Linked DNA regions of Homo sapiens. The protein of the gene in region 1 purifies or fractionates together with the protein of each later gene. This does not show direct contact. Each region holds a gene or a part of one and is shown in the gene's direction. Other genes may lie near its edges. The genes, in order: AASS, PTH2R, ACADM, ADGRG5 and SLC2A12.

Region 1 (4,694 bases):
GAGCTATGTAATTGTTGGGAAAATGATCAGATCTTTGCAGAAAACCATGTTGGTTCTTTTTCTATTGATTTTTGGATTTTTACTCATGTGTTATTTGTAGGGAGCCCAAGCAATCTTTAATGAGCTACCTTGTGAATATGTGGAGCCCCATGAATTAAAAGAAGTTTCCCAAACTGGAGGTAAGGGACAGGAGATGACTAACTTTTAATGTTTTTAACAGTCTATGTTATAATATTTTATCACCATAAATTTTTATTATTTGTCACCCACTTTACTAATTTCTTTCTCCTTTTCAAGACCTCAGAAAAGTGTATGGGACGGTGTTAAGTCGTCATCATCATCTTGTCAGGAAAACAGATGCTGTGTATGATCCTGCAGAGTATGACAAACATCCGGAGCGCTACATAAGTCGTTTTAATACTGATGTGAGTATCATATTCACCTTTTAAGTTGGTTGCTTATGATACAGTGTAGGTAGGCTATTTTCAAGGAGAGAAATTATGAATTGTACAATGGCTTTCAGTTTTCCTGTTGTGAGTCCTTTGGGTATCATGATTTGGCCTTTGGAGCTATCATCTTTTATGGTATTTGGAGTAGTCTCGCTTAGTGCTTTTGGTGGTTTCTGTGGATACACTCTTTGTTTCACTGTCTCCATTTCTGCTTCAGGTCTACATGTGCCCAATAGCGCTAAGCCATTTCCTGTGCGTTACTGTTTTCTGTATTTATCCTGGACTAGTTAGCACTGTGGGCAGAGCATAATGCCTATGACGTTTGGTCTCAACATGGCCGCAAATTGCAACCATAATCTCAGCCAGCAATCTTGAAATGCATGCCATTGATTATCAGGGTGAGGGTTAAATAGCGTTCCTATATAAGTGCAGACCATCCCCACTGAATGAAAAAGCTATTACACTTACAAATCAAATCCTTCGATGCGACACACATCTTATAAGAAATAAAATATATTTGTGTGCTCTATAGTCATTGGCCATGCAACATTCTTCCCCCAGATAAACTAACAAACCAAAAAATACATAAAACAAAAAATGCATGCATTTATTGTGAAAAAGAATGCTTTAAATAATTTTAAATATGTTTGACCAACATAACATTTTCAGATTCTGGTATGAAGTTTAGCCCTTATATCGTGCAGGGCATGTTAGGGAAAAGAATTCTTACCTTCAGCTTGAGATGTTTGAAGAAGAAAAATTATGAACATAGTTTCAAACTGAAAAATTTGGAATCTAAGAAATCTTTATTCCTTCTCATTTCCCCAATCACAGAAGTATTGGTGATTGGATGCATCCTAAAACTGATACTGACCTAGTTGCCATGTATGCATGTATGTAGCACATTGCTCCATAGAGCTTACAGATGTTATCCGATTTAATCTTCACAGCATTCCTTTGAGGAATGGGGTGCGTATTATCCCCATCTGGCAAGTAAGAAAAATAGAGCCCAGGGAAGTTGAGGTAGCATGATTTAGGTCATACCCTACTGATATTAGAGCTGGAAATATAATTTTAGGTCCACCGTTTTTTGTTTGTTTTGTTTTTGTCCTTTCATTTTTCTTCGGCATGCAATACATTATAGAATGAACACACTAATGTATTTATAGTCATATATTTCTCTATCATAGGGTAATTCTATACTGAAATCTGGGTGGCTATTTAATATCTTTGCCTCAAAAGATGGACACTGACATGGACAATAAGAAAATCAATTAGAAGTTACATTTAATTATTTCTCATAGAATTTACTGATAGCTTTCTTTCAGTATACTGTATTAAAATAGGCTATTTTCTATTTTCTTGAACCTGGAACTTGCATTACAGATTGCACCCTATACAACTTGCTTAATTAATGGAATCTACTGGGAACAAAACACTCCTCGCCTCCTAACCCGCCAAGATGCTCAGAGTCTCCTGGCTCCGGGCAAGTTCTCACCTGCTGGTGTGGAAGGCTGCCCTGCATTACCACACAAGTAAGGACTCTACTTCAGCAACGATAGTAGTTTTGACCAGCTGCTTCCATTATTAGAGGATCAAATATCACATATCAGAGGACTTGATTTCTAATGACTACTTCTCTGCCTTATCTTTCTTGACCTCTTGGCAGTACTCAACACTGTTAACCATCTCTCCTTTTTTTTTTAAAATTTTATTGTATATATTTATCTTTAGAGATGGGGTCTTGTTATGTTTCCCAGGCTGGTCTAAATCTCTGGACCCCAAGCAGACCTCCTGCCTTGGCTTCCCAAGGTACTGGGATTATAGGCATGAGCCACCATGCCCAGCCCACCTCCACTTCTTGAAACATTCTTCTTTTGTCTTCTGTGATGCCCCATGCAGCTCTGAAGCTATTTGCTCAGAGAAGTCTTCTCTTGTTTCTCCATTCTCATCTCTATCTCTAGTCTGTTACTCTGTTTTTTGTTTTGAAATTCCTCATTTATTTTCTCGTGTTTATGATTTTTCTCCCTCTTCCTAGAACTTAATCTCCTTGAGGATAGGGGGTCTCTTTCTCTTGGCCACAAGCACCTAGTACGTTGCCTGATATATAATAGGCATTGAAATAATTATTAAATATTGAATTAATTAATTAATATTTGTGGAAGAGTAAAAGATATGTCTGCTTTTCTAGGCATGTAACTGGCATCAAGTAAATGCCAAGGGAATGCTAGGAGCAACAACATCACCAGGGTTTAGAAGAAAGCAGAAGCATTGGGCGCAGCAAACCTTAAAGGGAGGAATGAGGAGAACAAGAATTCCAAGTGAAAGGATTGGTGCTTAATAAATATGGAGCTACCAAAGCATATTTAGGGTGCTGAATGTGTCAGTCTAGCTCTACATTGGTTCATGTATGCAAGTGGTAATTGGAGATTGGGCAGAAAAATTGTAGTCAACTTTTTGAATGCTGGACTGAAACTTTTGTTCGTAATTCTAGAGATTTATGTGTAACCACATGTAAAACTATACAGTACTAAGCAGGGTGGAGGTAGCATAATTGAACCTTTCTGAGTTATTTAGAGATAACTATGTTAACTTTAGTCTGTTAATGATTTCTCTAGGAAAGCAATTTTCTGCGTTTGTTTCCTTTTTTCTTTTCTTTCTTTCTTTCTTTTTTTTTTTTTTTTTGGAGACTAAAATTCATACTGGGAAGATTCTCTGTATCACAGAACAGTGCAGAGTCCTGAAGAATGAGCTATAGGAAAAAGACCCCAAAAGCCTGGAAAATATTTGGGATCCACATTGAAAATTGTTCCAAACTCCTTTTTTTTTAGTCTTGTTGGAGACTTCAGAATTTCATCCTCTCATCTAAGTATTGATGTTATTTTCAGACTCGTGGCAATATGTGACATTTCAGCTGACACAGGAGGGTCTATAGAGTTTATGACTGAGTGTACAACAATAGAGCATCCCTTTTGCATGTATGATGCAGACCAGCATATTATTCATGACAGGTGAGTTTGCTAAAGTTGTTAGATGATATTCCTCACTTAGTTACATTGATATACTACTCTAAAATTCTCAGTATTTTACATCTTTATGAAGTTATGAAAATTTGGAGAGATATACTCAAACATACTAAAATTTGGGGAAAAAAACATGCACATTTGAACACACACACATACACAAATATATTTAAATGTGAGATGGGTTGCTGAAGAAGGAAAACGTTTTGTTTGAAAAGTTTTGTTTATTTTCGCGTATACTTTTATACAAAATTACAAATGATAATGAAGCAAATATAGTGGAGTAGACATCTGGAAAAGTCAGAACTTACAAATAATGTTTTGTGCTTCTGAATAAACCACATTGCTGCTTTTAGTGTTGAAGGCTCGGGGATCCTGATGTGTTCCATTGACAATTTGCCGGCACAGCTCCCAATTGAAGCTACAGAATGCTTTGGAGACATGCTTTACCCTTATGTTGAAGAAATGGTAAGCAGACTGGTAATATCAGTAACAACTCTGTGGCTTTAAATTGAATAATTGAGTAATTCTGTGAATGTTCTGGTCTTCTGTATCTAAGAAATCTGCTGTAAAATGAAATGCCAGCCCTTCCCTGAAATACTTACTGATACTATTTTATTTGACATATTCTGCTTACTTGTCTCTTGGGGTATAGGATGATATCACTGCCTTCATGCTTAATTACAATTACATCTCTTTCCCATTATAGGTCTTTTATTAAGAATGTTCACCACGTGTGAGATAAAACATGCTTTATTTTTAATTTTTTGCCATCTATGTCAGTTCATATTGGGGCACTCTTATTGTGCCGTAATAACCAGGTCTGAAAAATTAGAAATATAGAACATTTTTATTGGGTTCTGGTCACTAATAGTTAAGTGACAGCTTATGTTGAGGTCATGTATTTTTCTTCTGTGATCATTGATTAGCTAATGAAATACCATGTTATCTAAATTCCATTTTCTTTATCAAAGAAAATTTTTCTTATTTCAGTTTTTATCCTAAGCATTCATAGCCTTCCTGCTTTATTTTTATTTCAGACTGTCTGCCTCTGCCAATGATTCCAATATAAAGAATGGCTCTTACTCTTTTCATCTATATCTTCCCTCATAAGCTCTTACACTAAAATAGAACAATAGTTAGTGGGGCAAGAATAAATGAAATTTCCAGTCTGTGATCCTCTTTTCTTTCAAATAGTATTCCATTTTGACCCTTTCTTTTT
Region 2 (4,694 bases), on another chromosome or scaffold:
AAGTTCACCTCTGCCTCTAGGGCTCACACTTGTATTCCTTTTGCCTGGACTGCTTTTTCCCCAAATATTTACACAGCTGGCTACTTGTTCTTGTCACTCAAACACACTTGAGTATCACTCTCAGAGATACTTTGTTGAGTTCCTCATCTAATACATCCACTACATTACTCTTTTTAAAATCACTCATTTCTTTTCTTGCATAACCCTTCTCATTTTGCATTTTTCTCATGTGCTATTTGTTTATATTTTATCCATGTCTCTTCCTTTCTAGAACAGGGAACTTGTCTGTTTTGTTTACATTGTTTATCCCTGCCCCTGTCATGCTGAACAGCTACCACACTGCATAAGCTCAGTAAATATTTTTGAATGAACGAAATAAAAGGTTTCTTTGTATTCTTACCATACAATACTTTATGTTTGTAGTTTTCAGCATTTACAGCTTATAACTTCCTCTTACCAAGCAGAGGATAGGTATTATGTGATCCATGGGTCACAACATAAATGAAACTAATAGGATAGAAACCTATTCCTTGTGTATCTTGGAATGCTTTATTTAGTGACTTATTTGGTTCAGCTGACACCAAGGAAAGACGTCAAACAAATTTAATGTAAACATAAGGATTTGGAAACACTAGGAGAGAATAATTTGTATATAATTCTCTGAAGGAATCATAAAAAACAATTTTTGGACGTACACATTTTGGCACAAGATGCTTAAGTGCTGTGAGTTTCTGAGTTGGCAGTGGGCTGACTTTCTCTTTTGTCTGCAGGGTTTCTTTGTGTCTATCATCTACTGCTACTGCAATGGAGAGGTAGGTTTGTAGGAACCTTGGACAGGTCTCGCTTCAGCTTGTAAATGGCCATCACAATGTATCCTGAATCTCTTTAGAATTTCCAGGATTTCCAGGATGGAATGGGTGAGGAGAAGGAAGCTATTTTAATCATAAATTATTTTGGAAAAGAAAGAATTAGTGCAAATAACCTAAAGTCTTCCTCTTCTAGCACTTTTAAATGTGAACTCATCTGTACACTCTGACATTAAAAAGCAACTTGTTGGAATACAAACAGACACTTGGATGGACAGTGAACATCATATTCTGGTTAATACTTAAACTTCTATTCCATTTTAAGTTCTGTACAAAACTTATTAGTTTCCCTGGGACAAATTCATTCAAATATTTTGATGTTTTTTGAACTATAAGATGATGATGGGACAATTTTAGTTCATTTAGGAGTTGGCTGGAGAGAAGTAACTACACTAGATAATAATACATTTTACCTTGTAACTTTTAATATGCCCTGCTGTTGGATGAGCTGCCATGTTTCTTCTCTCAAATTTTAAGCTTGCTGCAGGCCCCAGAAGTGCACAGATACTTTTATTGCGGTACACCAGCTGATGCTTCTGACCATGTTTAGGGTTTGGACATTGTGGCATGCTAGTCCAGTGCTTGCAGAAAGAGCTTAAATTAATTTCCTGACTTACTTGTGTATTGTTCTTACCTTATTTTGCAGGAGGGGTAAGTAGGTCAGTTTAAGAGTTAAAGAAAGAGGAAAGAAACCCAAAAAGCACTCAACAGTCAAAGATGGGTTTATTTAGGAGAATAAACCTGGGAGGGGCTTCTGGCCAAGTTAGGTCAGAGAGCCTTCTCTCTTACAGACTAAGAGTTTTTAAGGGTTCAGGGTGGGAGAGCTTATCACAGGCTTGGACTGCTTCTGTATCTCTTTGTCTTGCTTATCTGGGAGGGAGAATTTTTGTGTTTTATCCATACATCTTCCTGCAGCTGCAGGCACAGCCCCTCCTACCCCCCGCCCCCCAAGTCTGCTTTTAGCTTCCATATCTTGGTGCACCTAAAGGGAAAGGAATGTATTTATTAGGACCCACTGTTTTACTGGGGTCCATTGTAGACTGTGAAGTTTTGTGGTTACCCAAGAGACTTTCTCCACTTCCTCTGTGCCCGAGCTGTCTTATCAGTGTTTTATACTGTCTGCTCTTTCTGGCTGCTTGTTGTTAGAAGGGAAGTGATTTCCTCAAAATGCATGAGGTTAGAAAGGGAGCTGGACTTAAAGTGGTGGTGTTTATCCAAGATGATGGTGCTTCTGCTCTGTCAGTCAGGTGTTGATTTGTTTTTGCCAAGATGAACAGATAGAAGTTTGTTGTTTCAGGTGACATCAGCATACTGGATTTCCACTGCTTCCCATGGAACTTCCAAATAAACTCTCTTCTGAAAAGTGGCAATTGAAGTAGAAATGAATCTTCAGTAGTAGGAATGGAAATAAGAGCCCCACCCTATTAAGAATGCATTTGCAGTGCCTGCTTTTCTATCCACGAGCCTTCTTTTCTCACTCTGACTCCTTTAGGCTGCCGATGCAGATTGATAGCATGACAGTTACATTTCAAATTGAGTACCTTCTACGCCATTCCTCAGCCTCAGCTGGTGCCAAAGACATCAGCAATTTAAGTGGTGAAAACAGATTTTATTCAGTAACTACTGACAGCAGGGGAAAGAGCTGAGCCCAATTCCACTTCACACAGAAGTGATTTGGGCATTTTAAAGGGAGAATGAGGGAGGTGGAGTGTAAGGGCTCAGTAGAGTCAAAGAAGTGAAAAAATATTTGGTCAGTATAAACACGTTTAGGCCAGCTGTGCTAGCAATCAGGCAGTTATTTAAGATAGAATTCTATCTTCCCACAGAGACTGGGAGACAAGAGGCCTTATCCCTCTTGATTTTTATATTTTGAAGGGATGGCTCTCAGGTCCTTGAGAGAGATGCTTCTGAGTTAGAAGAGCTACATATTTACAATTGTGAACCTTTTTAGTAAATGCCCTAAGAAAGGGGAGTCATGGGCCTATCATCAGGTGTGTGCTGGCTAGAGCAAATAGTAAATTCTCCTGGCAGCACTGAGCTTTCTCAGGCAGGCACTATCAATGGCTGAGATCATCCTAGGGATGCCACCTTGTGCTGCTAGAACCATGCTTGAGTTTGGGCAGGTCTCAGTGCAGGGGTTCCAGTGGGCTTGTCATGTGCCACGCGAGAGTTCTGAAGTTCTCACTGGCAATGTTTATCTTGAGTTTCTCTTCCAACCCAGAATCTCCTTTTTTTCCTCTCCCATATGTCAGGTATTTCTATGGGCTGCATTTAAACTTCTGTTTAAAGTCTGATCTTGGACAAGTCCCTTCACCTCTCTCTAAGCTTCAATTTGCTCACCTCCAAAACTAACACCTGTCTTGAAGGTTTTTTGAGGTTGAGAGAAAGTCATAGATAAAGTCCCTGGCACGTAGAGGAACCTCAATCAATGATTATTGCTGTCATTGAAATCAAGGCAAACATCTTTGTAACAAGGCTGCAGGGTCTCCTTTAGGATTTCTCATGCACAGCATGTTTCTCGTGGCTTAGGTTCAGGCAGAGGTGAAGAAGATGTGGAGTCGGTGGAACCTCTCCGTGGACTGGAAAAGGACACCGCCATGTGGCAGCCGCAGATGCGGCTCAGTGCTCACCACCGTGACGCACAGCACCAGCAGCCAGTCACAGGTGGCGGCCAGCACACGCATGGTGCTTATCTCTGGCAAAGCTGCCAAGATCGCCAGCAGACAGCCTGACAGCCACATCACTTTACCTGGCTATGTCTGGAGTAACTCAGAGCAGGACTGCCTGCCACACTCTTTCCACGAGGAGACCAAGGAAGATAGTGGGAGGCAGGGAGATGATATTCTAATGGAGAAGCCTTCCAGGCCTATGGAATCTAACCCAGACACTGAAGGATGCCAAGGAGAAACTGAGGATGTTCTCTGAATGGACATTTGTGGCTGACTTTCATGGGCTGGTCCAATGGCTGGTTGTGTGAGAGGGCTTGGCTGATACTCCTATGCTTGAGTTCAAAGGCTGAAAATTCAGTTAAGGTGTTACTTAATAATAGTTTTTAGGCTCCATGAATTGGCTCCTGTAAATACTAACGACATGAAAATGCAAGTGTCAATGGAGTAGTTTATTACCTTCTATTGGCATCAAGTTTTCCTCTAAATTAATGTATGGTATTTGCTCTGTGATTGTTCATTTTTTTCTGCTACTTTTGGGTAGAAAAAAGATTCAATTGCTTGGCTGTAGCTTTCTCTCATATATATCACCCTAAATATAATGAAGATCTTTTAGTGTGTATCATTTTCCTTTTAGAAACTAGTATTCTCTTATTTCTTACTTTAATGTACTTCTATCACTGCATTTATTTTGCCTGTGCATAGGAGCAATTAGGATCTAAAAAAATATATGGGAAGATAAAAGATCTAAGAACAAGTACTTGCTGGAAAATTAGTTGGCTGGACATTGATAAAATAATGCATTTATAACAATTACATGTGTTTCTGGGAACAAGGAAAATTTCTCAAAAAAGAATATTTCACACATCCCTTCTTTTGAATGGCCTCTTTGTGACCAGCCAGACCTCAGGTCTTCACTCTTTCTTCTTTGTAAACTATGTCATGTGGAAAGATTTCCTCAGTTAGTGAGCTTGTGTCTGCAAATTGATTTTGTTTGTAATGTATTTTGATAGCAAATCATGCTGCATCTATATCTTTTTCTTGTTTGAGCTGTTACTACATTGTACATGGCATGTGGGATCAATTAAAAATTTGTTTTAAAAATACATTTTGGATCACTTTTTAAAATTTTTCTTTCAACGTCTCACTTTATGTTTGAGAA
Region 3 (4,694 bases), on another chromosome or scaffold:
CCTCTTGAGTATCAGATAATTTTAGTACTATAAAGAGTCGTGTCTTCCATGAATTTCCAGGGTAATTCTTAACTCTTACCCCTTTAAATATTGATGCTCCCCCATTATCTGTATTCTTTCCTGCAACTCACTATGAGTTGTATAGTGAACCTCCTATTTCTCTTTTTTTTTTTTTTTGAGACAGGGTCTTGGTTGCCCAAATGCGAGTGCAATGGTGCAGTCATGGCTTATTGCAGCCTCTTGGGATCAAGCAATCCTCCCACCTCAGCCTCCTAAATAACTGGAACTATAGGGGCACACTACCATGCCTGCCTAATTTTTTTATTTTTGTAGAGATGAGGTCTCACTATGTTGCCCAGACTGGTCTCAAACACCTGAGCTCAAGCAATCTTTCCACCTCAGCCCCCCATGAGCCTCCTATTCCTATCTCCATTTGTCAGTGGTTCTCAAACTATTTGTGGTGAAAGACCAGTTTGTTTTAATTTCCAGTTAATGTGGACCATTATTTTTGTAAAATATAAGAATGTCACAACAATGTTAAATTGCTGTAAAAGTGTCTAAATGCTTATTCTCATCTTCTGTACCATCAACCAGTAACAGTTTGTGAATTGGCACTGTGGACAAACTTGGATTAGCACTGCTCTGTGTCCCTTAACCTTAGTTTCATAATGTATCTTTCTACACTATATTCTAGATAATTTTTTCAGATCTGCTTTCTAGTTCTCTTATCTTGTGCCTAATCTATTTAATCTGTTGATTTTTTATTAATGACTACTTTTCATTTCCAGAAGTTATATTTGGTTTTTTCCATTATACCTTCTGTTCAACATCATACCGCCTTTTCCTTTTTTCTCATTAATCATGTAAAAATTCTTCATTTATAATCAATTTCAGATTTTTTTGTTATCTTCAATTCTTTGGGTGCTAATCTTTCAAGGTGTATTGTGTCTTCTAACTCTTTTATGGTCAATTATTTTGCTTTTATTTTTTATTTGTAAACAACTTACCTGCAGGAAGTACTCTATTTCTCAGAGCATTATGGAAGCATTTTAGAAATTGGCTTTTGTACTTTTTTGGCACTTTTGTTAGGTACTCCAGAGATTTCACCATTCTAAGAGCTGTTATTTTACATTAATTTCTTGACTTGGAGAATCCTGTATCACAGAGCTCGTACATTGATCTCACACATTAAGAAACTCCGTACATTCCAGTCTGGGCAACAGTGTGAGACCCTGTCTCAAAACAACAACAATAACAAAAGTCCTTTTTTTTCTTGTTCTTTTTTTAACCCTCCTGGGCAAGAGATCAGCTTCTTTGTGGCCCTCCTATGCTGATGAGCCCAGACTTTTAATTGCCCCTTTGGAAAGCAAAGCTTTTACATGCAGTGATTCTCAGTTTTAGCCCCTTAGATTGTTCATGCTCACATCGAAATCTCCTGTTCTTATGTGTTTCTTAAAACTCTGGTTCCTATCCTGCTGAGCCCAAATCTGAGTCTGATTTTTCTTTTCCTCCATGTTATCTCTTCTCAGGATTTAAATTCCTTTTTAGAGGCACTTAGAGATTTCTGTTTCTTTCCTATGAGCTTTTTTTTTTTCTTAACCAAGTATTTCTTTGTTAACTCCTTCATGTTGCCAGAACTACATATGTACATTTTACTAAATGTTAGTTTATCTTATTCATAAACAAATTTCAACCTAATGCTTTTCAGTGAAGATCTGTCATCGTCTTCCAGGTCCTCCTTACCCAAGTATCTGATGATAACTGTATTTTTGGCTTTCAACTCAATATAGAATCTTCTCCTTTTATGTTCTCTTTCTTATAAATTCTAAAGATTTTTTTCTTATTAAATATTGAAAAATCTTAGTTTTTCCTTACTGCTTAACTCAAAATAGTCTTTTATCATTTGATTTCTACTGAAGATTTGCTTATCTTTTAAGCACTCTGCAAAATGCTGATAGCTTCTTTTTTTTTTTTTTTTTTTGAGACAGGGTCTCACTCTATTGCCCAGGCTGGAGTGCAATGGTGTGATCTCAGCTCACTGCAACCACTGCCTCCTGGCTTAAGTGATCCTCCTACCTTAGCCTCCTGAGTAGCTGGAACTATAGGTGTGAGCCACCATGCTCAGCTTTTTTTTTTTTTTTTTGTAGAAATGGGGTTTTGCCATGTTACCTAGGCTGGTCTCGAACTCCTGAGCTTGAGTAATCCGCCCATCTTGGTCTCCCAAAGTGCTGGGATTACAGGCATGAGTGACTGCGCCTGGCCTAGTTTTTCATTTTTAATTGGTAGGTACAGTGATATGACACTGTAATTCCTTGTCACTCCTTTGCTAGGTGTCTCTCAACCCATTTGTGTGCCCTTTGAAACTTCAGTTTTTTGTTTTTTTTTTTTTTTTGAGACGGAGTCTTACTCTGTTGCCCAGGCTGGAGTGCAGTGGTGCGATCTCTGCTCCCTGCAACCTCTGCCCCCGGGGTTCAAGTGATTCTCCTGCCTCAGCCTCCCGAGTAGCTGGGTTTACAGGTGCCCGCAACTGCACCCGGCTAATTTTCTTTTGTACTTTTAGTAGAGATGAGGTTTCACCATCTTGGCCAGGCTGGTCTTAAACTCCTGACCTTGTGATCCACCCACCTTGGCCTCCCAGTGTTGGGATTACAGGCGTGAGCCACCGTGTCCAGCCACTTGTCTTTCAGTCTGTGTACTCTATGTATAGCATTATGAATGAAAAGGGTCAGGTTATTCTTGGAATCCACAATTAAATAATTGTTTAGCCATTTCATGTGTGGTATTAGAAAATATACAATGATCTGCCCAAGGGTTCCAAGATGGCTGAATAGGAACAACTCCAGTCTACAGGTCCCAGCATGAGTGACACAGAAGACGGGTGATTTCTGCATTTCCAGCTGAGGTACCGGGTTCATCTCACTGGGATTTGTCGTACAGTGGGCGCAGCCCACAGAGCATGAGCCGAAGCAGGGCAGGTCATCACCTCACCCAGGAAGCGCAAGGGGTCGGGGAATTCCCTTTCCTAGCTAAGGGAAACTGTGACAGATGGTACCTGGAAAACTAGGACACTCCCACCCTAATACTGCGCTTTTCCAACAGTCTTAGCAAACAACACACCAGGAGATTATATCCTGCGCCTGGCTTGGAGGGTCCCACACCCATGGAACCTCACCCACTGCTAGCACAGCAGTCTGAGATGAAACTACAAGGCGGCAGCAAGGCTCAGGGAGGGGCATCCGCCATTGCTGAGGCTTGAGTAGGTAAACAAAGTGGCCGGGAAGCTCGAACTGGGTGGAGCCCACTGCAGCTCAAGGAGGCCTGCTTGTTGCTGTAGACTCCCCTCTGGGGGCAGGGCATAGCTGAACAAAAGGCAGCAGAAACTTCTGCAGACTTAAACCTCCCTGTCTGAAAGCTTTGAAGAGAGTAGTGGTCCTCCCAGAATGGAGTTTGAGATCTGAGAACAGACAGACTGCCTCCTCAAGTGGGTCCCTGACCCCTGAGTAGCCTAACTGGGAGAGACCTCCCAGTAGGGGCCGATTGACACCTCATACGTCCGGGTGCCCCTCTGAGACGAAGCTTCCAGAGGAACAATCAGGCAGCAATGTTTGTCATTCTGCAATATTTGCAGTTCTGCAGCCTCTGCTGGTGATACCCAGGCAAAGAGGGTCTGGAGTGGACCTCCAGCAAACTCCAACAGACCTGCAGCTGAGGGTCCTGACTGATAGAAGGAAAACTAACAAACAGAAAGGACATTCACACCAAAACCGCATCTGTACGTCACCATCACCAAAGACCAAAGGTAGATAAACCCACAAAGATGGGGAGAAACCAGAGCAGAAAAGCTGAAAATTCTACAAATCAAGAGTGCCTCTTCTCCTCCAAAGGAATGCAGCTCCTCGCCAGCAACGGAAGAAAGCTGGATGGAGAATGACGAGTTGAGAGAAGAAGGCTTCAGATGATTGGTAATAACAAACTTCTCCGAGCTAAAGGAGGATACTGGCAAACTGAATCCAGCAGCACATCAAAAAGCTTATCCACCACGATCAAGTCAGCTTTCTCCCTGGGATGCAAGGCTGATTCAACATACCTTGAATCAATAAATGTAATCCATCACATACAGAACCAACGACAAAAACTTATGATTATCTCAATAGATGCAGAAAAGGCCTTCAGCAAAATTCAACAGTTCTTCATGCTAAAAACTCAATAAACTAGGTATTGATGGAATGTATCTCAAAATAATAGCTATTTATGACAAACCCACAGCCAATATCATACTGAATGGGCAAAATCTGGAAGAATTCCCTTTGAAAACTGGCACAAGACAGGGATACCTTCTCTCACCACTCCTCTTCAACATAGTGTTGGAAGCTCTGGCCAGGGCAGTCAGGCAAGAGAAGGAAATAAAGGGTATTCAGTTAGGAAAAGAGGAAGTCAAATTGTCCCTGTTTGCACATGTCATGATTGTTTATTTAGAAAACCCCATCATATCATCCCAAAATCTCCTTAAGCAGATAAGCAACTTCAGCAAAGTCTCTGGATACAAAATCAATGTGCAAAAATCACAAGCATTCCTATACACCAACAACACACAGAGAGCCAAATCATGAGTGAACTCCCATTCACAATTGCTTCAAAGAGAATAAAATACCTAGGAATACAACTTACAAGGGATGTGAAGGACCTCTTCAAGG
Region 4 (4,694 bases), on another chromosome or scaffold:
GAAATTGTCTTTGGTATAGTTCACAGACTTCATTCTGTATTATACTCACTCATTTATGTATGCCGGTTCTTTGGTAAGTATATTTTAACTTTATAAGAAACTGCCAAATGGTTTTCCTTGCAATTTTATGACATGATAAAATAAAAGATTCCTGTAAACAACACCACGATCAAGACACAGAACTGTTCCATCGCCACAAGGATCCCTTGTGCGAGACCTTTAAAGAAACACACTCCCCCTCCCTAACCCTTTGCAACCACTAATCTGTTCTCCATCTTTATCATTTTGTCATTTCAAGACTGTTAAATAAATTGAATCACACAGCATGCAACATTTTGAGATTGGCTTTTTTTTTTTTTTTTTTGGCTCATGATAATTCCTTTAAGATCCATCCAAGTTGTGTGTGTCAGTAGCTTTTTTTTAGAAATTCATTTTTTTAACTGCTGAGAATTGTATTTCAGAGTGTAAAGGTATCACCATTTAACCATTTTCACCCACTTTGAGGCTATCATGAATAAAGCTGCTATGACTCTTCATATACAGGTTTTTGTGTGAACACGAGGTTTCATTTCTCTGGGATAAAAGCCCAAGAGTGCAATTATTGGGTCATATGATAGGTACATGTTTAGTTTTATAAGAAACTGTCGAACTGTTTTCCAGAATGGCATTGGAGTGTAATTTATTTATTCCTCTATTGATAGACATTCACATAGCTTTCAACTTTTCTTTATTAACAATACTATTCTAAATATTCTTGTATGTGTATAATCCTGGCTTGCCCTATTCTTTCCATAGGATAAATTCATAAGAATGAGTTTCCTGGCTTAAAGGATATTCAGAACGTAAAGTTCGAATGTGTTGCTAAGCCGTCCCCTTGCAGATGAGGCTCAGATCTTAGACAGAGAGTGCAGGAATGTGCCTGTCCCTACAGACTCACTGGGTGCTATCATATTTCAGATCTTTGCAGATCCAATGGTGGAAAAATGAGAACTCATGTTCTTAACTACTTTCCTCTGCCACTACCATCAAACACATATTTTGAGTTTTGTGGCTCTCCCTCTTGAAGCCTTGCAAGTTTTTGTTGACTTCCTTTCTCTAAGAGGAGGATCATCAGTTCTCTTGCCCTCCCTCCCCTATTTCCTCTTCTTCATCCTCTTAATATGTTTTTTGATTGGATTTCTAAAGTCTTGTCTATAGAGGTATACATACAATAAAATTCACCCTTTTGGAGAGGAGTTTTTGCATTTTGACAGATGTGTACAGTCATGTATACATGTATATTACAATCAAAATATAGAACATTGCTGTCCCCTGAAAAGTTGTCTCAGGCCCTTTTGTAGTTAATATCTTTTCCCTACTCCCTGGCAACTACTGATTTGTTCTCTGATCCAATAGTTTTGACTTTTCTAGATTCCACTTCCATGTTACATTCCCTCCAGAAATGAATGAGGCTTCCAGCTGTTCTATATCCTCATAATACTTTGTATTACCATTTTAATCCTAGTCATTCTAGAAGGTGTGTAGTGATATCTGATTGTGGTTTTTATATGCATTTCTCTAATGACTAATGATATTGAGTGTTTCTCATGTGCTTATTTGCATCTATACATTTTTTTTTTTAACATGTAGTTCCAGCTCTGTCACCCAGGCTGAAATGCAGTGGCATGATCTCAGCTCACTGCAGCCTCCTCCTCCTGGGTTGAAGCAATTCTCCTGCCTTAGACTCTTGAGCAGCTAGGATTACAGGCACATGCTACCACACCTGGCTAATTGTTGTATTTTTAGTAGAGACAGGGGTTTCACCATGTTGGCCAGGCTGGTTTCAAACTCCTGACCTTGGGTGACCCACCCGCCTCGGCCTCCCAAAGTGCTGGGATTACAGGCATGAGCCACCGCGCCCGGCCCATCTATATACATCTTCATTGGTATAGTGATTGTTCAAATCTTTTCCTATATTTATTGGGTTGTTTGTCCTCTTATTAGTTGTGTAAGAGTTCTTTATGTAGTCCAGATACAATTTTTTAAAAACATCAGATATGTGTTTGTAAATATTTTCTCCCAGTCTGTGGCTTATCTTCTCGTTTTGCTAACCATGACTTTCAAAAAGCAGAAGTTTTAATTTTGATGAAATTCAACTTATCAGTTTTTTGTTGTTGTTGTTGCCATGGATCACGTTTTTGGTGTTGTTTCTAAGAAATCTTTGCATAACCTAAGTCAGAAGGATTTTCTTTTTTGTTTTTTCCAAGGAGTTTTACAGGCATATCTTGGAGATATTGTGGGTTTGGTTTTAGACCACCACAGTAAAGCAAATATGGTAATAAAGTGAGTCACACAAATTGTTTGGTTTCCCAGTGCATATAAAAGTGATGCTTACGGCCAGGCACGGTGGCTCATGTCTGTAATCCCAGCACTTTGGGAGGCCGAGGCGGGCGGATCATGAGGTCAGGAGATCGAGACCATCCTGGCCAACATGGTGAAACCCCATCTCTACTAAAAATACAAAAATTAGCCGAGCATGGTGGTGTGTGCCTGTAATCCCATCTACTTGGGAGGCTGAGGCAGGAGAATCACTTGAACCTGTGAGGTGGAGGCGGAGGTTGCAGTGAGCTGAGATCGCACCACTGCATTCCAGCCTGGGCAACAGAGCGAGACTGTCTCACACATGAAAAAAGTTATGTTTACATTATACTGTAGTCTATTTAGTGTACAAAAGCATTATGTCTAAAAATGTACATACCTTAGTTAAAGGACACTTTATTGCTAAAAAGTACTAGCAATCTATCTGAGCCTTCAACAAATCACACGCTTTTTTGCTGGTGGAAAGTCTTGCCTTGATGCTGATCAAGGTGGTGGTGGTTGAAGGTTGGGGTGGCTGGCTGTTTCTTAAGACAGCAGTGAAGTTTGCCACATCAGTTGACTCTTCCTTTCATAAGATGTTTTTCTGTAGCATGTGATGCTGTTTGATAGTATTTTACTCACGGTAGAGCTTCATTCAAAATTGGAGTCCGTCCTCTCAAACCCTGCAGGGGCTTTATCCACTACATTTATTTAATATTCTAAATCTTTTGTTGTCATTTCCACAGTGTTCACCATATCTTCACCAGGAGTAGATTCCATTTCAAAAAACCACTCATTGTTCATCTATGAGAAGCGACTCCCCATCCATTCAAGTTTGATCATGAGACTGCAGCAATTCAGTCACATCTTCAGGATCCACTACTAATTCTAGTTCTCTTGCTATTCTAATCACATCTGTAATTACTTTCCCCACTGAAGTTTTGAACCCCTCAAAGTCGTCCATGAAGCATGGAATCAACCTCTTCCAAACTCCTGTTAATGTTGATATTTTGACTTCTTCCCATGAATCACAATCACATGTTCTTGCAGCATCTAGAAGGGTGAATCTTTTCCAGATTTTCAATTTACTTTGCCCTGATCCATCAGAGAAATCACTATCTATGACAGCTATAGCCTTATGAAATTTGTTTCCTAAATAATAAGACTTGAAGGTCGAAATGACTCCTTGATCCATGGGCTGCAGAATGGATGTTGTGTTAGCAGCACGAGAACAACATTGATCTCCTTGTGCATCTCCATCAGAGCTCTTGGGTGACTAGGTACATTGTCGATGAGCAGAAATATTTTGAAATAAATCTTTTTTTTTTTTTGAGTAGTAGGTCTTAACAGTGGGTTTAAAATATTCAGGAAACTATGCTATAAATAGATTGCTATCATCCAGGCTTTGTTATTCCATTTGTAGAGCACAGGCAGAATAGATTTAGCATAACTCTTAAGAGACCTAGGATTTTCAGGATGTTAAATGAGTATTGGCTTCCATTGAAAGTCACCAGCTGCATTACCCGCTAACAAGGGAGTTAGCCTGTCCTTTGAAGCTTTGAAACCAGGCATTGATTTCTTCTCTCTGGCTATGAAACTCTTAGATGGCATCCGCTTCCAATATGAGGCTCTTTCATCTACACTGAAATTCTGTTGTTTAATGTGGCCACCCTCATGCATGATGTTAGCTAGTTCTTGTGGATAACTTGCTTCTCCATCAGCACTTGCTGTTTCACTTTGTACTGCTATGTCATGGAGATGGCTTTTTTCCTGAAACCTCATGAACCAACCTCTGCTAGCTTCCACGTTTTTTCAGCTTCCTCACCCACCTTGGCCTTCATAGAATTGAAGAGTTAGGGCCTTGCTCTGAACTAGGCTTTGGCTTAAGGGAACGTTGGCCGGGGGCTGGTTTGATCTTCTATCCAGATCACTGAAGCTTTCTCCATATCAGCAATAAGGTTGTTTTGCTTCATGTGTTCACTGGAGTAGCACTTTAAATTTTCTTTAAGAGCTTTTCCTTTGCATTCATAACTTTGTGAACTGTTCGGTGCAGGATGCCTCGCTTTTGGCTTATCTGGGTTTTCACGTGTCTTCCTCACTGAGCTTAAAATTTCTAGCTTTTGATTTAAAATGAGAGATGTGTGACTCTTTCTTCTACTTGAACACTTAAGAGGCCATTGTAGAGTTATTCATTGTTCTGATTTCGATATTGTTGTGTCCTAGAGAATAGGGAGGCCCAAGAAGAGGGAGGGAGACAGGGGAACAGCTAGTTGGTGGAGCAGTCAAAACACATACATTTATTGGTTAAGTTTGCCATCTTATATGGGCGCAGTTTGTGGTACTCCAAAACAATTACA
Region 5 (5,436 bases), on another chromosome or scaffold:
AAGCAATGATACAACTAACCCATTGCAAGAACATTTTCCCCCTAATGAGGTCATTGGTTCTGAGCAGAAAGAAGTTAGAAGCCAAGAGAATATAGAGAACTTATGGGAAACATATGTGTCTCACAGATAGAAACTGGGACTCCTATATAATTATAATGCACCCTGGGAACAAATAAAATGAGTTGTTTCAAACCATGGTTGCGTTACACATTCTTTAGTGGGGACACTGATGTGTGGGATTCTGAACTTCTCACCCTCTTAATCATAAGGGGCCTGGATTATGCCTGGAGGACTTCCATTTTCTAGCACTATCAGCAGACATACAACGGGTACATAATAAAGACTAGTTGAATTATTATAGGTTTGTTTCCATTTGCTACCTGTTTCCCTGAAAGATAAGAAAAATATAGAATTATTTAATGACAAGCAAAGGAAATGTACAAATAAGTGAATTTAGAACTTTGAAGTGATTCAGTTAAAATGTTGAAAAGAAGTAACAAAAATTTAGCTTCTGCTTATACAAGCACAAATTTGTTTTTCTGTCCAGAGAAATGCCTATGACTAAAAGCCATATTTCACGGCATCTTCTTAAAGTCGAGTAGGTCTGAAACCATAGGAAGCCAAGAAAATTAGAGAAGGACAAGGCTGGGAAGTTAGAATATAGGAGAGTTACAGCTTTAGACCTCCTGGATTCATAATCTCAGCTCTACCACTGATTAGCTGTGAGACTGTAGCCAAGTTACCCAACCTCCATTTCCTCTTCTATAATGTTGGTACCTGCCTCAAAGTCATCATCTGCGTTATTGCGCTTAGCACAATTTCTGGCACATAAGTGCTCCACACATGTTAGTTTTTATTCCAAATGATTTTTAAGATGATCTCAATTTCCTCTATAAGGCTTTTTTTTTTAATAAACATGATTTGTTGAATGAATAACTGAAGGTAAAATGTCATAACCCTGTAAGACTTTTTTATAAATATGTTCACAAATCAGAAAAAGATCCTCTCTCATGACCTGATTTTGTTTGAGATTACATGTCCACCACACGCACACAATGGGCCACTTAGTCTGGCCTCTCTGAGTGAGGAGTATCCTCCTCCTACCTACGCAAACATGAAACCTAACAGAGGATTCAGTGTTAATTTGTCTCTTAAAGACAATTCTGCATTAAGAAATGGATTACTTTGCTATAACCTCAGCATATAAAAAGTCTAAAGAATCTGTGCATTCTGAGTTTGTGTATTTTTGGTCTCAGGCTGTGATTTATCTGAAAGGCCTTGGAGAGAAAGATATAGGCCTTTACCTAGACCAAAATCAGGTTGAAACAATAAAGGTATTTTATGCTTTGTGTAAGCTGGTAAATACCATGACTTTTGGAATAACAGTCTTGCTGAAAAATTGACACACTTTTCCTTCTGGTATGTCTTTGCATAAATTGTTCCTCTTTCTGCAAGATTAACTGATACCATCTGTGAGTATTCTATCCCCACTCTCAGCTTGCATTTAAATCTGCATGTTTCCTTTCTCTGCCTCTTTTCAAAGGTGCTAGAATACAAGAGCTACCCTTAGCTAATGGCCAAACACTCCGTCTGAGTTCCCTTTCTTTTAACCCCTTGCTTCCAACTCTGCATCTAAAGGCAAAAACAATCCTCTGACTCACGGCCCTCCCCCTGCCTGTGATAGGCTGCTTGGAATAGCAACAGCCTGTGTCACCGAAAAGGGCAAAGCCTTCGGAAATAGAAACAAAGTTGGTCACAAATCACATTAGCTTTGCCCGAAGTTTTTCCCCACACTCTTCTTTAGCATGCTATTATGGGGAAAGTGACCACTCCTGGGAGCGGGGGTGGTCGGGGCGGTTTGGTGGCGGGGAAGCGGCTGTAACTTCTACGTGACCATGGTACCTGTTGAAAACACCGAGGGCCCCAGTCTGCTGAACCAGAAGGGGACAGCCGTGGAGACGGAGGGCAGCGGCAGCCGGCATCCTCCCTGGGCGAGAGGTAAAGTGAGCCTGCAGTGCTCGGGTGACCGCAGAGAAGCAAGCTGTACTCATCTCCCGAGTGTACTGTCTCTTGAGTCCCGTGTGTGTGTGTGTGTGTGTGTGTGTGTGTGTGTGTGTGTGTGTGTATGCGCGCGCGCGCATGTGGGCGCGCTGGATGAGTGGAGAGAAGGGGACAGGGTCTGGTGGGACGTGGGACAGCTCGGAGCTGTAATGTTGTGAAGATCGAAGTCTTGGTGGAACCTTATGTGCCAAGAAAATACAGGTTACACATCCACCACTGGTATGATGGGTCCCCTTGATTGTGTTTACATAATACAATGTATGGATGTTTTTCATATTGGAACGGTCCACTGGCAAAGATAGTCTCATTTGTAAACACACACAAGCACACGCTTGCTTACACTTTTTCATTTATTGTCACAAATGGACACTGTGTAACCAGTTGACATTATAACCACTGTTTTAAAAATCAGTATTTTAAACAGGCTTCATAAAATTATTAGTTATGTAATCAATGAGAACACAAACTTCCTTTTTAAATTCCCAGCACGTTTGTGATGAATTTGAGCGTTATTCAGAGCCTGAAACGCTTGCTTTGCTGGGTTCTGCCTTCTTTAAAACTGGCCTTGCAAACTGAGGTTTGTTTGCTATGATGACCTTCTGAAGGTGAAATTTGGAAAAGTTTTAATTCATTTAATGATCTTTGATAAATCAGAGGCTGGTCTTCACTTCCACATTTACAATTCCCACAAATACATTGTACGCTTTTTGCTGCCTCTTCCTGCTCATTTAGTTTGTGCTGCAAGGAATAGAAAGTAATTGTAATATGAAATGACAACAAACACAAAAAATCTTCTCTTTCCTACTACTTTCCTCAGCTGTGTATTCTTAATCAGATATTACATTCCCAAGCAGCATATAGAAATTTCATGCAAAATCCAATACACTAAATGATACAAAAGACATCTGCCTTTCTCTTGGGAATGGTCCTAATACTGACGTTTGCCTTGTGGGTTTGTCTGATCTTGGGGAATCGAACCTGTGACCCCTAACATCGAGGCATGAAGCGGCCCTCTTCAGGAGTGGAGAAGCCCTCCATCTTCCATGTCCTGATCTCTTCTCTTGCTTTCACACTTCTCGTCAAGAATGAGGCCGGGCGTGGTGGCTCATGCCTGTAATCTCAGCACTTTGGGAGGCCAAGGTGGGCAGATCACTTGAGGCCAGGAGTTCAAGACAAGCCTGGCCAACAGAGCGGAAACCCTATCTCTACTAAAAATACAGAAAAATAAAAAAATTAGCTGAGCATAGTGGCACATGCCTGTAATCTCAGCTACTCAGGAGGCTGAGGTACAAGAATCACTTGGAGGTTACAGTGAGCTGAGATCATGACACTGCACTCCAGCCTGGGTGACAGAGTGAAACTCTGTCTAACATAATAATAATAATAATAATAAAAGAATATCTGGGGTCATCTTTCAATATGGCCTGTCCTCTCCTATGCAGAAGTACCCTTTTCCCTAAGCGCTTGCTACTCATTGGCCCACAAGTTCCCTAAGAGCAGGCAAGGGAAACTTATATTTGGAGATAAAGGGAAAGAGTTGCAAAGTTCTTTTCTCCAAATTCCTGGGAACATGAGCTGCAGTCTAGACTGCAGAGCAAGCTGAGGTGGTGATGTTAACAAAAGGGCTCACTAAATACAGTCAGTGATAATGTCACAAAGAAGATGAAAAGAAACTGCCTAGGAAGAGCCTTTGTAGTAACCATTAAAAATGGACTGTTTATTTTGATATGGCTTTGAAGGTACAATGTGCTCTTAATAGCTTATATTGTACAAATTCACAATTATCCAGAAGAAAGATAATGTGTATTTACATTTGCAATAGTTGGTTACATGCACAAAATTCAACTTAAAGTGCAACTGTTTATGTTGTAAAGAAATAATAAATGAATAAGTACCATAAATTATCTTTCAAATTTAATTTTAAATTAACTTTCATTTTGTAGAAGAGAAAGCCTGAATGTTTCCTTAAAATGTCAGATGAATACAACTTTGATTTGTGCTATACATAATCTGCATTTAGATGAATGCAAACCTTTTATTTTCTACTTTTGTAAATTTTCTTAACTTATCTTAAACATCTTTTGGCACCCAAAAGCAATTATACATACATATGTATAAATGAATGCATAGTGCAGACTTGCTGTATGGTTTTCTTAAGTTACTTAAAGTCTCCATTCATTAATATTGGGATTGTATCTTCATCTATTTTATGAAGGTGTTGAGATTTAATGAGGTAATATTTGTCAAATACTCCTTTTGGCTTCTTCATATTTTCAACTTCCATAGTTTTCATTTAAGACATTCAGAGTATTTAAATTATGCTCAACAATTATCACAATATGTCTGCATTTGAAGGTAGCAAGCTTTTCTACATTCCTAGATGGAAAAATCAAAGCACAAAGAGGAATGAGTTATATAACTCAGGACAAGGTAATTAAATCATGTGAGATACTGAAAAACAAAACAAAACCAACCCCCTAAGGTCTGCAGTTGAACTCCCTTGATGCTATTGTGCACAGTGAAAAATTTTGGTAGGTCTTTCTTGACTAACCCTCTTTAACTGAAAAGAATGCTTTGTTCCAATGACTAGAAGCTAATGAACTTAATTCATTTTCAATAAGCTATGACTCAAAGTGGTTACATTTTTAGTAAATTTTTTCAGCTTTCATGGACATGTTCCAATCCATCTTAATATAGGACAGGATTAAGCTCAGTTTGAAATTCTGGTGCCTAGAGTTGACAACAGATATAAATGAAGTGAGATATTAGACGGATGGAGCAACTCACACAAGGGAAATCTGAGGTCAAAAGATGTGTGATCGGCCCACGGTCACACAGAGGATGGTGCAGAACTGACCCTGGTGGCCTCTGGCCCAGGAGATTCAATACTGACTTCTACTTCAGCTCCCAGGCTTCCTTTATTTCATGATCCAAACAATTGGCTGGGGACAGAGTCCTCTTAAGTTTCCCTTCACCCCCAACTGTCCAAAGGTTCAGAAAACAAGAACAATATTTACTGTATGAGTGCAGGTTGTCAGCACTGCAGAACTCTCTGGCACTGGGACCCAGAACATGAAGAACGGGACTCACGAACTCAGCTGAAAGGACTGTCCTTTATCCCCTCTGAAGATGCCACAGTCTGGAATTTAAGAAATACACGCTTCTGCTCAGCAGATGAACATTCTAAGGCAGTTGTTCTCAAAACGCTTTTAAAGCTGTGAACTCCTTTTTCCTAAATGGAAGCTGGGCAGGTGGTGAGTATGTAAGATGTAACTGTAACTAAGTTCCTACTGAGTGCTGTTCTCCCGGGTTTAGCTTAAAATGGGCCCCCTGGAATTTCGTCAGGCCTGGCTTTCTCAGGCTTCGTCAGTCAGC

What was found.
Region 2: the proteins of AASS (region 1) and PTH2R purify together in Homo sapiens (co-immunoprecipitation; one large-scale study listed by IntAct). This does not show direct contact.
Region 3: the proteins of AASS (region 1) and ACADM fractionate together in Homo sapiens (co-fractionation; one large-scale study listed by BioGRID). This does not show direct contact.
Region 4: the proteins of AASS (region 1) and ADGRG5 purify together in Homo sapiens (co-immunoprecipitation; one large-scale study listed by IntAct). This does not show direct contact.
Region 5: the proteins of AASS (region 1) and SLC2A12 purify together in Homo sapiens (co-immunoprecipitation; one large-scale study listed by IntAct). This does not show direct contact.

What each region holds. Positions count from the first base shown.
Region 1 is NC_000007.14:122,112,364-122,117,057, reverse strand, and holds part of AASS (alpha-aminoadipic semialdehyde synthase, mitochondrial), read left to right. Parts: intron 1-100; coding exon 101-179; intron 180-297; coding exon 298-425; intron 426-1,835; coding exon 1,836-1,984; intron 1,985-3,337; coding exon 3,338-3,460; intron 3,461-3,828; coding exon 3,829-3,940; intron 3,941-4,694. UniProt on the Homo sapiens protein: Bifunctional enzyme that catalyzes the first two steps in lysine degradation.
Region 2 is NC_000002.12:208,489,869-208,494,562, forward strand, and holds the end of PTH2R (parathyroid hormone 2 receptor isoform 1 precursor), read left to right. Parts: intron 1-770; coding exon 771-812; exon of another isoform or gene 813-917; intron 918-3,395; coding exon 3,396-3,791; 3' UTR 3,792-4,638; downstream 4,639-4,694. UniProt on the Homo sapiens protein: This is a specific receptor for parathyroid hormone. The activity of this receptor is mediated by G proteins which activate adenylyl cyclase. PTH2R may be responsible for PTH effects in a number of physiological systems.
Region 3 is NC_000001.11:75,751,834-75,756,527, forward strand, and holds part of ACADM (medium-chain specific acyl-CoA dehydrogenase, mitochondrial isoform a precursor), read left to right. Parts: intron 1-4,694. UniProt on the Homo sapiens protein: Medium-chain specific acyl-CoA dehydrogenase is one of the acyl-CoA dehydrogenases that catalyze the first step of mitochondrial fatty acid beta-oxidation, an aerobic process breaking down fatty acids into acetyl-CoA and allowing the production of energy from fats.
Region 4 is NC_000016.10:57,548,374-57,553,067, forward strand, and holds part of ADGRG5 (adhesion G-protein coupled receptor G5 isoform 1 precursor), read left to right. Parts: intron 1-4,694. UniProt on the Homo sapiens protein: Orphan adhesion G-protein coupled receptor (aGPCR). Ligand binding causes a conformation change that triggers signaling via guanine nucleotide-binding proteins (G proteins) and modulates the activity of downstream effectors, such as adenylate cyclase.
Region 5 is NC_000006.12:134,048,940-134,054,375, reverse strand, and holds the start of SLC2A12 (solute carrier family 2, facilitated glucose transporter member 12), read left to right. Parts: upstream 1-1,751; 5' UTR 1,752-1,895; coding exon 1,896-1,998; intron 1,999-5,436. UniProt on the Homo sapiens protein: Insulin-independent facilitative glucose transporter.